Linked DNA regions of Homo sapiens. The protein of the gene in region 1 interacts with the protein of each later gene in a pairwise test. Each region holds a gene or a part of one and is shown in the gene's direction. Other genes may lie near its edges.

What was found.
Region 2: the proteins of UBE2E2 (region 1) and MARCHF3 interact in a two-hybrid assay, tested with the Homo sapiens proteins (one large-scale study listed by BioGRID and IntAct).
Region 3: the proteins of UBE2E2 (region 1) and RNF103 interact in a two-hybrid assay, tested with the Homo sapiens proteins (2 studies listed by BioGRID).

The regions. Positions count from the first base shown.
Region 1 is NC_000003.12:23,528,165-23,531,900, forward strand, and holds part of UBE2E2 (ubiquitin-conjugating enzyme E2 E2), read left to right. Parts: intron 1-3,736.
Region 2 is NC_000005.10:127,020,453-127,024,188, reverse strand, and holds part of MARCHF3 (E3 ubiquitin-protein ligase MARCHF3), read left to right. Parts: intron 1-3,736. UniProt on the Homo sapiens protein: E3 ubiquitin-protein ligase which may be involved in endosomal trafficking. E3 ubiquitin ligases accept ubiquitin from an E2 ubiquitin-conjugating enzyme in the form of a thioester and then directly transfer the ubiquitin to targeted substrates.
Region 3 is NC_000002.12:86,613,866-86,617,365, reverse strand, and holds part of RNF103 (E3 ubiquitin-protein ligase RNF103), read left to right. Parts: exon of another isoform or gene 1-949; intron 950-3,500. UniProt on the Homo sapiens protein: Acts as an E2-dependent E3 ubiquitin-protein ligase, probably involved in the ER-associated protein degradation pathway.

The DNA.
Region 1 (3,736 bases):
CCTCACCCCACATTTGGTCACAGAAGTCTTCTGTGTTGAGAGAGTAGGAAAAACATTTTGATTCTTCCAATCTCATAGAAACCCAGATGCCCTTCAGTGGGTAAATGGGTAAACAAATTGGTACATCTATTACTGTTTGGTTCTTAGTCTTATTTGGAGAAAGAATTCTGCCAAGCTACTGGTTTAGCCAGAGAAAGAGAATTCATTGAAGGAAAATACAGAGTAGGGAGTTTATCTAGAGAGACAGTACACTCTGAAAAGATGAGGCAGGGCGAGCTGCTGAAAGAGAGTGAGCCAGCAGCACCCCGAGAGTGGTGGGTTTTTATGATTTCAGATTTTTTCTTGAAGTTCCTGCCTCTTTCTTAAGTCTCCGCCTTTTTACTTTGTTTAGTTTTCTGCATCTGCCTTAAGTCCCTGCCTTTTCCCTCACCTAGTTCCCGCCCCAAGGTTGTGGGACCCTCCCTTACTATTGGTGTGCACGCGTGAACCCGATGTTGGACACAAATTGCTTCTGCGTATCTCTTAGGAATTTTCTCCTTTGCCCTCTTCCCTTTAGCATGCATCTAGCTACATTCTGGCAGGTTAACTGGCAGAGTGAGCAATCACTGGGGTCTTAAGGGGGATTCCTTTCTGCCTAGGTATTTCCCCTCCTGTCTGTTCATATCTAGCACGCCTGTTTGGGGTGATCCCTGGGGCATGAGATTTTCCAGACTCCTTTTCTCAGGGCAGCCCTTCTCCTCCTCATGTCTGTTTATCTGCCTATTCTACCACATCTATGCCGTGGAATACTACTCATCAGTAAGAAAGGAACAAATTATTGACACGTGCAACAGCTTGGATGGATCTTAAGGGAATTGTGCAGAGTGAAAAGAACCAATTTCAATTGGTTACCTACTATACGATTCCATTTATATAGCGTTCTTGAAATGACAAAGTTGTGGAGATGAGGACAGAGTTGTAGTTGCCAGGAATTGAAGTAAAGGGAGAAGGCAACTATGGCTATCGCAGGGTACCATGAAGAATGTTTGTGATAGAGTTGTTTGTGTGTTGACTGGTGGTATTCACACAAATCTATACATGTGATAAAATTACATAGAACTAAATATACTTAATATGCATGAGTGCACATAAAAATGAAACTGGAAAAGGTCAGTGGACTGTATTAATGTCAGTTTCCTGCAGTATACTGTAGTTATACAGGATGTTTTCATTGGGGAAAATTGAGTGAAAAATACATGGGATCTCTTTATTTCTTACAACTGTACATGAATCTACAATTATCCCAGAATTATAAATTTTTAACGAAAGAACAGAGGCATTGATGCTGAGAGACAAACCGTAGGCTTTTGGATCAGCACAATTGTGTTCAAATTCTGGCTTCCACTTACCACTTGTGGGATCTTGAGCCAGTTCTTTAACCTCCCTTTGCCTTAGTTTCATCATTTTTCAAGTGGTTGCCAATAATATTATTTTCCCTATTGAGTTGTTTTGAGGGTTAATTATCAATATTATGTAAGCCACTCATTGGTTAAATTGGGATCGTAAAAATATTTTATCTTTTCATTTAGCACTTAAAGGGATAGGCACTCTGCCTTCTCCAGAGAAATTTTAATATCACGAGATAGTCTCTGTTTCATTAACTTAGGCTAGTGTCTTTATTTCTTCTTTCATGGAGTTTACTCTGTTGTTCTTTTACTACCTTCCTGAGTTGGACACTTAACTCATTAAATATCTGTCTTCCTTCCTAATGTATGTGTTTGAAACTGTAGATTTCTCTTTTACAACTGTTTTAGCTGAGTCACAAAATTTTGATATTGGCAACCCAATATTTTCATTGTCATTCAGCAATAATAGTAACTGATTTTTTTCTTTGATCCAAGAATTATTTGAAAATGAGTTTTTCAGTTTCCAAACATATGATAGGGGGATCTTTTATATGTAGATTCTGACTTTACATTATGGTCTTAATAATGTCAATTCTTTGAAATATGTAAAGCTTCTTTTGTGGCTTAGCATGGGATCAGTTTTTACAAATGTTTCTTAAATGTTCCTTAATCATTAAGTGTAGGATTGTGTCTTCATTCACTCCCTTGATTTTGTTTATCCAATTGTTCAGATCTCCAATATCCTTACTAATCTTTAGTCTGGTTGACCTATCAGTTACTGTGGTGAAAATGTCCCTCTTTGATTATAGCTATGTCATTTTCTCCTTATAATTTTGCACATTTTTACTTTGTATACTTTTGGCTATATTGTTAGATACAGCACATTCAGAATTGTTACTGTTTTCTTGATGAGTTGTTTATTTTATCAGTAACGTTCTTTGTTTCTAACAATGCTTTTTCCCTTAAACATATTTTGATCTGATAATATAGTCATTTAAGCTGTTTTTGTTAGCTAGTGTTTACACAGTATATGTATCTAGGATTTAGAATTCTCAGGAAAAACATTTCTCTTCTCATTCTAGAGCCCACGCTTTCTTTGGTAAGTTTCTTTGCTATCTCTGTCATAAGGCATATCTTTTCAAGTCCATGCATTTACTGAAAGACTAGCCATTCGAGTTTCCTAATTGATATAAGGGCGCTCAATTCTAAATTCTTGCAACATACAGGCCTAAGATTTCATCTTCTTTTTCCATGAGGGCATCAAAACCCAAACCTCCACTTTATTAAGACTGAGTACCATCTTTTACTCCCTTCCCTCTTCCCAAAACCCCACCCATGGCAGGTGCAGTCTCAGCTTGTTGCGCTTACTATAATTTTTGGTTTTTAATTCTGGGCTCTGGGAATTCCCCTTACAGATTTTGCTATGCATTTTAAAGAATGTTGGTTATATTTTCTTCAACATTTCTAGGCATTTAAGATGTGTATGTAGGTGTCATGGATTATCTGGTCTGGCATGATGCTAGAAGGGCAGTTCTCATTAGAAGTACTAATTTAACCTGAGAATGATGTCTCTTGTTCGACAACCACATAAGTCTCTAGATTTGCCCTTTCTGAGACTTCGCATCATGTAAATTACATAAATCTGGTGTTTGACTGGATGCTGGATGCCCTGGTGGAGTGGCAGCACCTGCAGAGATCTGCATGTGTGTTTTTCTTGGTTCAGAGCTATTTTGAACATAGGGTACCAAAAGACTGTCTTTAGAACCCTGAGATTTTTGTATATTTCAACTTAAAATTTAAGAACATTTATGAACATAATATTAATCAATAATATTCACATCTTATTGCCGTTTACATAACACTTTTATTAAACAGTTTTAGTAGTTATAAAACTGATTTGCACTTAATTATTTTCGTAGTTATAAAACTGATTTGCACTTAATTATTTTCAGTTGAAGTGTTTTACAAATGATATGGTCATGTTTCACAATTACATGTAAGCAGCATACAGTGGTGATCTAGCTATCACAGGGCAAAGGTAGGATGCACTAATATTACGTTTTAAAAATAAAATTTAAGAAGGAAAAGGTTTCTAAATTACAGCTAATTGTAACTAGTAATATAACTAAAATAGTAAATTGTAACTACTATAATTATACTAATATAGTTCTATGAACTGGGCATGTTATTTATATAAATGCCTTAGTTTATGTTTTAAAACTGTGTTATAGGCCGGGTATGTTGGCTTACACCTGTAATCCTAGCACTTTGGGAGGCCAAGGCAGGCGGATGACTTGAGGTCAGGAGTTCAAGACCAGCCTGGCCAACATGGCAAAACCCTGTCTCTACTA
Region 2 (3,736 bases), on another chromosome or scaffold:
TCCTACTCCATCCATCTCCAAAGTCCCTCTGTTTCATTTCTACCTTGCCTCCTCCTCTCACTACCTTCCTATGTGTCTTCTCTAAGGATGTCTTCAACTCCCACCCTAGGCTAGGTCATCTCCCCTGATTTCTCTTTTGTTCCCATACCCCTTGTCATATCTTGAAAAGGCAGCTGACTCATGAGTCCTACTTTGAAACTTGGGACAGCTTCACTGTAATGTCATTTGAAGTTGAAAATGGCTTGGTTCCTTTTGTCATCCAATGCAGGTGACTAAGCTTTGGCTGTGGGAGGTTTAGGGGCCTTTGAAGAGCAAAATGGTGCTTGACCTGGAGGCTGCTAATGTCTGAAGTTCAGCACGAAGGGGAAGCTTGACATTTGTTGAGGGAACCTTTTTTTATTTTTTATTTTTATTTATTTATTTATTTATTTATTTATTTATTTATTTATTTATTTTTTGAGACAGAATCTCGCTATGTCACCCAGGCTAGAGTGCAGCGGCGCAATCTCAGCTCACTGCAACCTCCACCTCCTGGTTCAAGTGATTCTCCTGCCTCAGCCTTCCGAGTAGCTGGGATTACACGCATGCACCACCACACCTGGCTAATTTTTGTATTTTTTAGTAGAAATCGGGTTTCGCCATGTTGGCCAGGCTAGTCTTGAACTCCTGACCTCAAGTGATCTGCCCACCTCAGCTTCCCAAAGTGCTGGGGTTACAGGTGTGAGCCACCATGCCCAGCCTGAGGGAAACTTTTTAAAAAAAATAATTCCAGCAATTTTTTATTTTATAAACTAATTTTTATAATACAGTTGACCCTTGAACAACTGTACAGGTTTGAACTGTACAGGTCCACTTATATAAGCAGATCAAAAATACAGTATTGGCAGGGTTTGAAAGCCACATATAGGGAGGACAGAGTTTTTATATGTACATGGATTCCTCAGGACCAAATAGGGGACTTATATTGGTGGATTTCATTATATATGGATGTCCTGCAACCAGTCCCTCGTGTATACTGAGGGAAGACTGTAGTTTTCATTTATAAATCTCCTTTTGTTTAGAAAGCACCCTCTACATAGTCATGTTTAACACATGGTCTGATGGCTTAGGTAAACACTAGTCCTGGACAATGGGTTACTGAGGTCGTGTACAGACCATGCGTCCATGTGTACAGACCAAGGATCAGCTGAATTAAGCCTAACTACCTGAAGAGGCCATTAGGATAGCCTTTTTCTATTGGATCTTATGGGGCTTTAAATGATTGCAAGAGATCAAGGTCCCCTATTTTCTGTCTCATCTGGGAGATTGAGCCTCACTTAATGCAGGTGCTTTCTTCTCATATCTGCCTGCCAAGAAGAAAATAGAGAATTGAATGGTTAAGCCTAGGAGGTACTTAAATGTTTAAGCCCACATAGAAGATGAGCAACCCCAGATTAGGTCATGAACTCAAATGCTGGTTTCTCTTGGGTCTTGCAAATCAGGAGTACCTGTTTCTGCATATCCTGGGGCTTCTGCTTTTGCCTTTGGATCCGGGGGTTGGGAGGACTCAAGGGACGTTCCAGATGAGAGTGTAGAACCAATTATGTGCGGACCCTTTCTTGCAACTAGTAGATGTTCTCCCTGTGGAAATTTGCTTTGGCATTTTCCCATATCTTCTTTTCAGTGTCCTAACTATTAAATCTTGTTCCTCTTACACTTTGCACATACTGAGGTTCTCAGTCAGAAAGTTCTTACCTTTTGTTTCCCTAATTTCAACTTACTCCTTAATTCAGCCTCCAACTTCCAATACTGTTGTCCTTCCTTTGATATTCTCTTTCCCCATCTTTTCAGGTAAGAACTCCACTTTATAAAAGCTCTGTTACCATCAGTGTCACCATTAATCTTTTCCCTTCGAGAGTAATGCATTTTTGACCATTCTCAAAGGACTTGCTTAGAGCATTCCAATGTGATTTTCCGATGGGATATTACATGCTCTGACAGCCTACACAGTAAAAAAGTGATTAGCCTCACAAAACCTTAGTTCTCACCAACATTGCCCATCCTTGCCAGTGATACCTCCCCCTTATTTGTCTAATTACTCTTACCACCTCCCGCTCACTTATCTATCATTGAGAAACAAGATCATATGGCTCAAATAGCAACACACATATTTATTACAACAAGATGAGGTTTTCTATAAAACAAAAACAAGTATACACAGAATATGGAGAAGGGCAGGCCTACCCTGATTTCTTTAAAAACAGGACATGTGGACTGGTGTGTCTTTTGTTGATAGATTCTTAATTTGTTGTTTTCACTAGCTATGGTCTGTTTGTCTTTTGAGGCTAAGTTATTACTTTTATAGCTAATGTCAACATTTGTCACTTTTTTCATTCCCTTCAGAATTATTGCCAGTGAGTTTCGGGTTTTTCTTCATTTATTTTACTCTATTTTTTGTGTTTTGGGTGATCTACCTAATTAAGTTGTGTTGTTTCTAACCTCTTCATTTATTTTTCTACCACTTTCCTGCCCCTGGCAACATCTCACAGTTAGATACCATCCTTACATTGAATGAATTTCCACTTGCACTGCAAATTAGCAATGAAGACATTAAATGGAATCCCGATAGTGACCGTTTCAAGAGCTAAGGCACCATTTACTATTCTGTTTTAATTATGGTCTCTTAGCAAATTTTCACCAGTTATAATGTTCACCCCATTTTCCAAGTAATGCTTCTCAAATACTGTATGAAATTATGAAATCTGTGTGTATTATATTTTCTGCTCTCTGTTACATGCAAAATTTATAATTCTAAAAATTTCTTGTAGGAAAAATTCTTATTAGACTGGAATGGTTAATTTGGTTTCTTGCCATCCTGCTTTTTGCATGTTGTGAACCACTAGACATTGATGTAATCTTTTATTTGACTTCATTTCTAACCCCCACCTCAGTTCCCCAAGCAATAATCCTACTCCATCCCTTTCCTCCATAGTGTGTGTGTTGGTGGGGGGTGGGTATTAAATGGATATTTTTTCTGGTCCCTAATATTTTCACTTTTTAAAACTCTACATGGCTGAAAAAAAAAGCCAGTGTCAGTTGATGATATCTTAGTCTGTTTGGGTTGCTGTAACAAATAGATCAAGTAACTTATAAATAGCAGAAATTTGTTACTCACAGTTTTGGATGCTGGGAAGTTCAAGATCAAGGTGCCAGCAGATTTGGTGTCTGGGGAGGGCCTTCTTCCCCACAGATGGTGCCTTTTCACCATAACTTCACGTGGCAGAAAGGGCTAGCTAGCTCTCCAGGGTCTCTTTTTATTTTTATTTTATTTTATTATTTTTATTTATTTATTTATTTATTTGAGACAAGGTCTCGCCGTGTTGCCCAGGCTGGAGTAGAGTGGCACAGTCTCGGCTCTGCAGTCTTAACCTCCCGAGCTCAAGCAGTTCTCCCACCATAGCTTCCCGAGTAGCTGTGATCACAAATGCGCGCTACCATGCCCAGCTAATTTCTCCATTTTTTGTAGAGACATGGTTTCACCATGTTGCTCAGTCTGATCATGAACTCCTGAGCTCAAGGGATCTGCCCAACTTGGCCTCCCAAAGTGCTGGGATTACAGGCATGAGCCACCACAACCAGCCTAGGGTCTCTTTTTATAAGGGCACTAATCCCATTCAGGAGGGCTCATAATCAATTCTCAAAGGTCCCACCTTCTAATACTATCACATTGGGGATTAGGATTCAATGTCTTTTTGGG
Region 3 (3,500 bases), on another chromosome or scaffold:
GTTGACTGCAGAAAGTGAAACTGAGGGTAAGGGGAGACCACTGTATTTTAGAAGAAGCTGACTAATTTGTTCTCTGTCATTTGTTTTAAGTCTATGAGGAGTGTTTTCATAAATGAAGATGCACAGATGGCAGCCAGTTCAATCCTCTTCATATTTTTAAGCTTTTCCAGGTCCATGTTACGTATAGTCTCTGTAATGTGAACAGAATTTATTTTAGTTTTCAAGGTAGCAACATACATATGACATCTTTACCAATGACACACTATGAAATACATGTAGAACCAAGTGCTCTTTTTTCTAAGTTATTCCTAACATTGTTTTTCTCCTTTGTCCCTAACCCAAGCTCATATCTTTCATTAGCTATTCATTTAACAGTTTTGTGGATTCTTTGGCCCCAGTCTTCATAGCATTACAAATAGAAGATGGTTACTTTTCTTTCAAAAGACCCTTGGTCAGAGAGGCAGATGGCACAGTGGATAGGCTTCTGAAGTGGAGAAGTTAGCATAATTTATGGGTTTTATGGATTTATCCTCCTCCTAACATTTCTGTTTCTCCGTTTTGACTTTTGTCATAGTTCAAAGAAGGACATATTTGTTCCCTACTGGCTGTGTTACATCATATGGAATTTAAAGTCACTGGAATTGAGGTAGCAGTGAGAAGCATCATATGATTTAAAATAAAGCTTTGGGTCAATATTTACTGAAGTATTACATCAATATATTTCCTGTTTGGCTGACAAGAGTTAATAGCTGATTTTAAACTTGTTTATCTTTGCTCCTAGACAAAAGTTTTGTTCGAGGAGATTCTAAATTACGTATTTCTTTCTTGATACTGCTATGGAGGTGAAGCACATAGCAAGCCACTTTATCTTATATTTTGTATTGGTAAAAAATTTTATAAATTCTATGTAAGAATACAAAAAAATTAAAAGACCACTGTTTTTTGTCAATCACTTGTCCTTACTCTTAATGGTTTTATATAGTTTGCATGTATATACTAGGTTGGCTTATGATTTTGAAAGTAGAGACTCCCTATTATAATGAAATACTGAGAATGCAGAAAATATCATAGCACAATACTCTCATTGTTCCAGGGAGTTATGTTACTTAACTAAACCTGGATGTCGTTGTATGGAGATTAACAGTATTAAAAGGGGTATGCCACATGGTTTGATCAGTAATAAACCTCACCTCTAAATAATGGGCATTTTAAAATGCACTGAATTAAACATCTTTATGTCTGACTGAGGTCAAGAACATTAATATGCAGTTGCTTAGCAGGGTACCATTTATGCCACTGTTTGTCCAGAAAACATCTTGGTACAGGTTGCTGGGGAAGGGACTTTGATTATAACAGAAATCAAAAGCTTAAGAGTTTCCTTTAGAGACTCTGTGTAATCAGAACTAGAAGAATGAGTTATTAAACTGTAAGAAGCTGAAATTGTTTGGTTTGACATAAATACTTATTGAGCACCCATATGAGTTGGGCACTGTATTAGCTGCAGGGACTACAGTGGTGAGCAAGTGTGGGGATGCCAGAGGCAGATACCCTGGGAAAGGGAATGGAAAGATTGCTTCACTTCTAGCCTGTATTGCCAGGTCTGTTCCACACCTGGAACTCAAGCTGTACTTTGTCCAGTTTTTTTGTAGTCTTTAAAAATGTTCCCCACATACAGTGTTCCTTCCTGAGCTGCTGAGGAAAATGTCTCCCCTTTTAATGAGACCAGCCATATGAATGCCACTCAGAATCATCATGCATCCTTCTAGGATATGAGCTATAAATTGGGGACTCTTACTGGTATGACATAGTGTGTGTGTGTATATATATTATATATATATATATATAAGGCATATGTATATATATATATTAGGCTGAGAATATTTTGTTGTGCTGTGTGACTCAACCAGATGAGTTATTTTGTGAAAATATTAGCATTTTTATAGTGGTTGGTTAATTTAAACTCCACCAAATTTAATTTATGCTAAACCTTCAGTTGAATTATATAACTATGTAGGACATTGGACACATTTTTAATTGCATAAATATAACTATAAAGTAATATAAAATGCTTTCATGCAATGCCTACAAGATTTTTCATTTTTGTGTAGCTCTGTCAGTCAGGGATCCTTAAACTCTTCAAAACCAAATGCTAGAACACGTTGCTGAATAAATAAGGCCCTGGCATTGAACATTGTCTTGTACCTGCCCCAGGTATGTTCCCAACTCTTTTCACTCACTTCTACTATCTCTGCTATAACCAAGAGGTACCTGGGAAGAACCCCTCTCATTCCTCCTTCTTTTCCTAACATTGGAGCTCTTATCACATGTCTCAAAGATACCTGTGCAGTGAACAAGATCTTCACTGAAAGATGCCTCCAGACTTAGGAACTAAATATTTACACTGGCGAGGCAACCTCTAAACTCCTTGGAGCAGTGTCATTCTGCACACAGACCTGAAATGTTTGGGTTATTTGCAACCTTGATCAAGAAATGGGATAATGCCTGAAAAGTGAGTTATTTTTAAAAGAGGGCAAAGAGTAGAGAGTATGGTAGTATGATTGCACAGATACTTCTTAATCTTCCTAAGGAATCTGAAAAATAAGTTAAACTTGTCTTTGATTATTTGACCAAAAGAACTACCAGATTGACTCTTGAGTGGTAGCAATAAAAATAAAATAAAATAAAGAACAAGAGGCAATAGGCGCCTGCTTTGCTTGATCTTCCTAATTTTCTAGGTACAACTTTTTTTTCTCTCTTTTTTTTGAGATGGAGTCTTGCTCTGTTACCCAGGCTGGAGTGCAGTGGCATAATCTCGGCTCACTGCAACCTCTGCTTCCCAGGTTCAAGCGATTCTGCTGCCTCAGCCTCCCAAGTAGCTAGGATTACAGGTGTGCACCACCACGCCCGGCAAATTTTTGTTTTTTTTAATAGAGGCGGGGTTTCGCCATGTTGGCCAGGCTGGTCTTGAACTCCTGACCTCAAATGATCCACCAGCCTCAGCCTCCAAAAGTGCTGGGATTAAAGGCATGAGCCACTGTACCTGGCCTTCTAGGTAAAACTTATAAAGTACTTTTGGACCAGAGAAAAATGTAAAGCTAGGGACTTACTGGGTAGGGAAACGTGTGAGCATCCTTCAAAAGAGCTTTCACCTATTAAGTGCATGTCCCCAGATTGCCTTCTTCCTGGTTACTTCAGCTGTCTGAGTATTTGAATAAATTGTATCTGCCTCAATAAGACCACTTATTTTCATTAAAAAGTACTATCAAAACCATGGTTGGGTGCAGTGGTTCATGCCTGTAATTCCAACACTTGGGAGGCCGAGGCAGAAGGAACCCTGAGGCCAGGTATTTGAGGCTGCAGTGAGCCATGATTGAGCCATTGCACTTCAGCCTGGGGAACAGAGTGAGACCCTGTCCCTTAAAAAAAAATGTAATATCAAAACCATTTGCTTAATGCCCTAAATTGTGTATATGTATTCATTAAGCTTCAAACTTATGTGA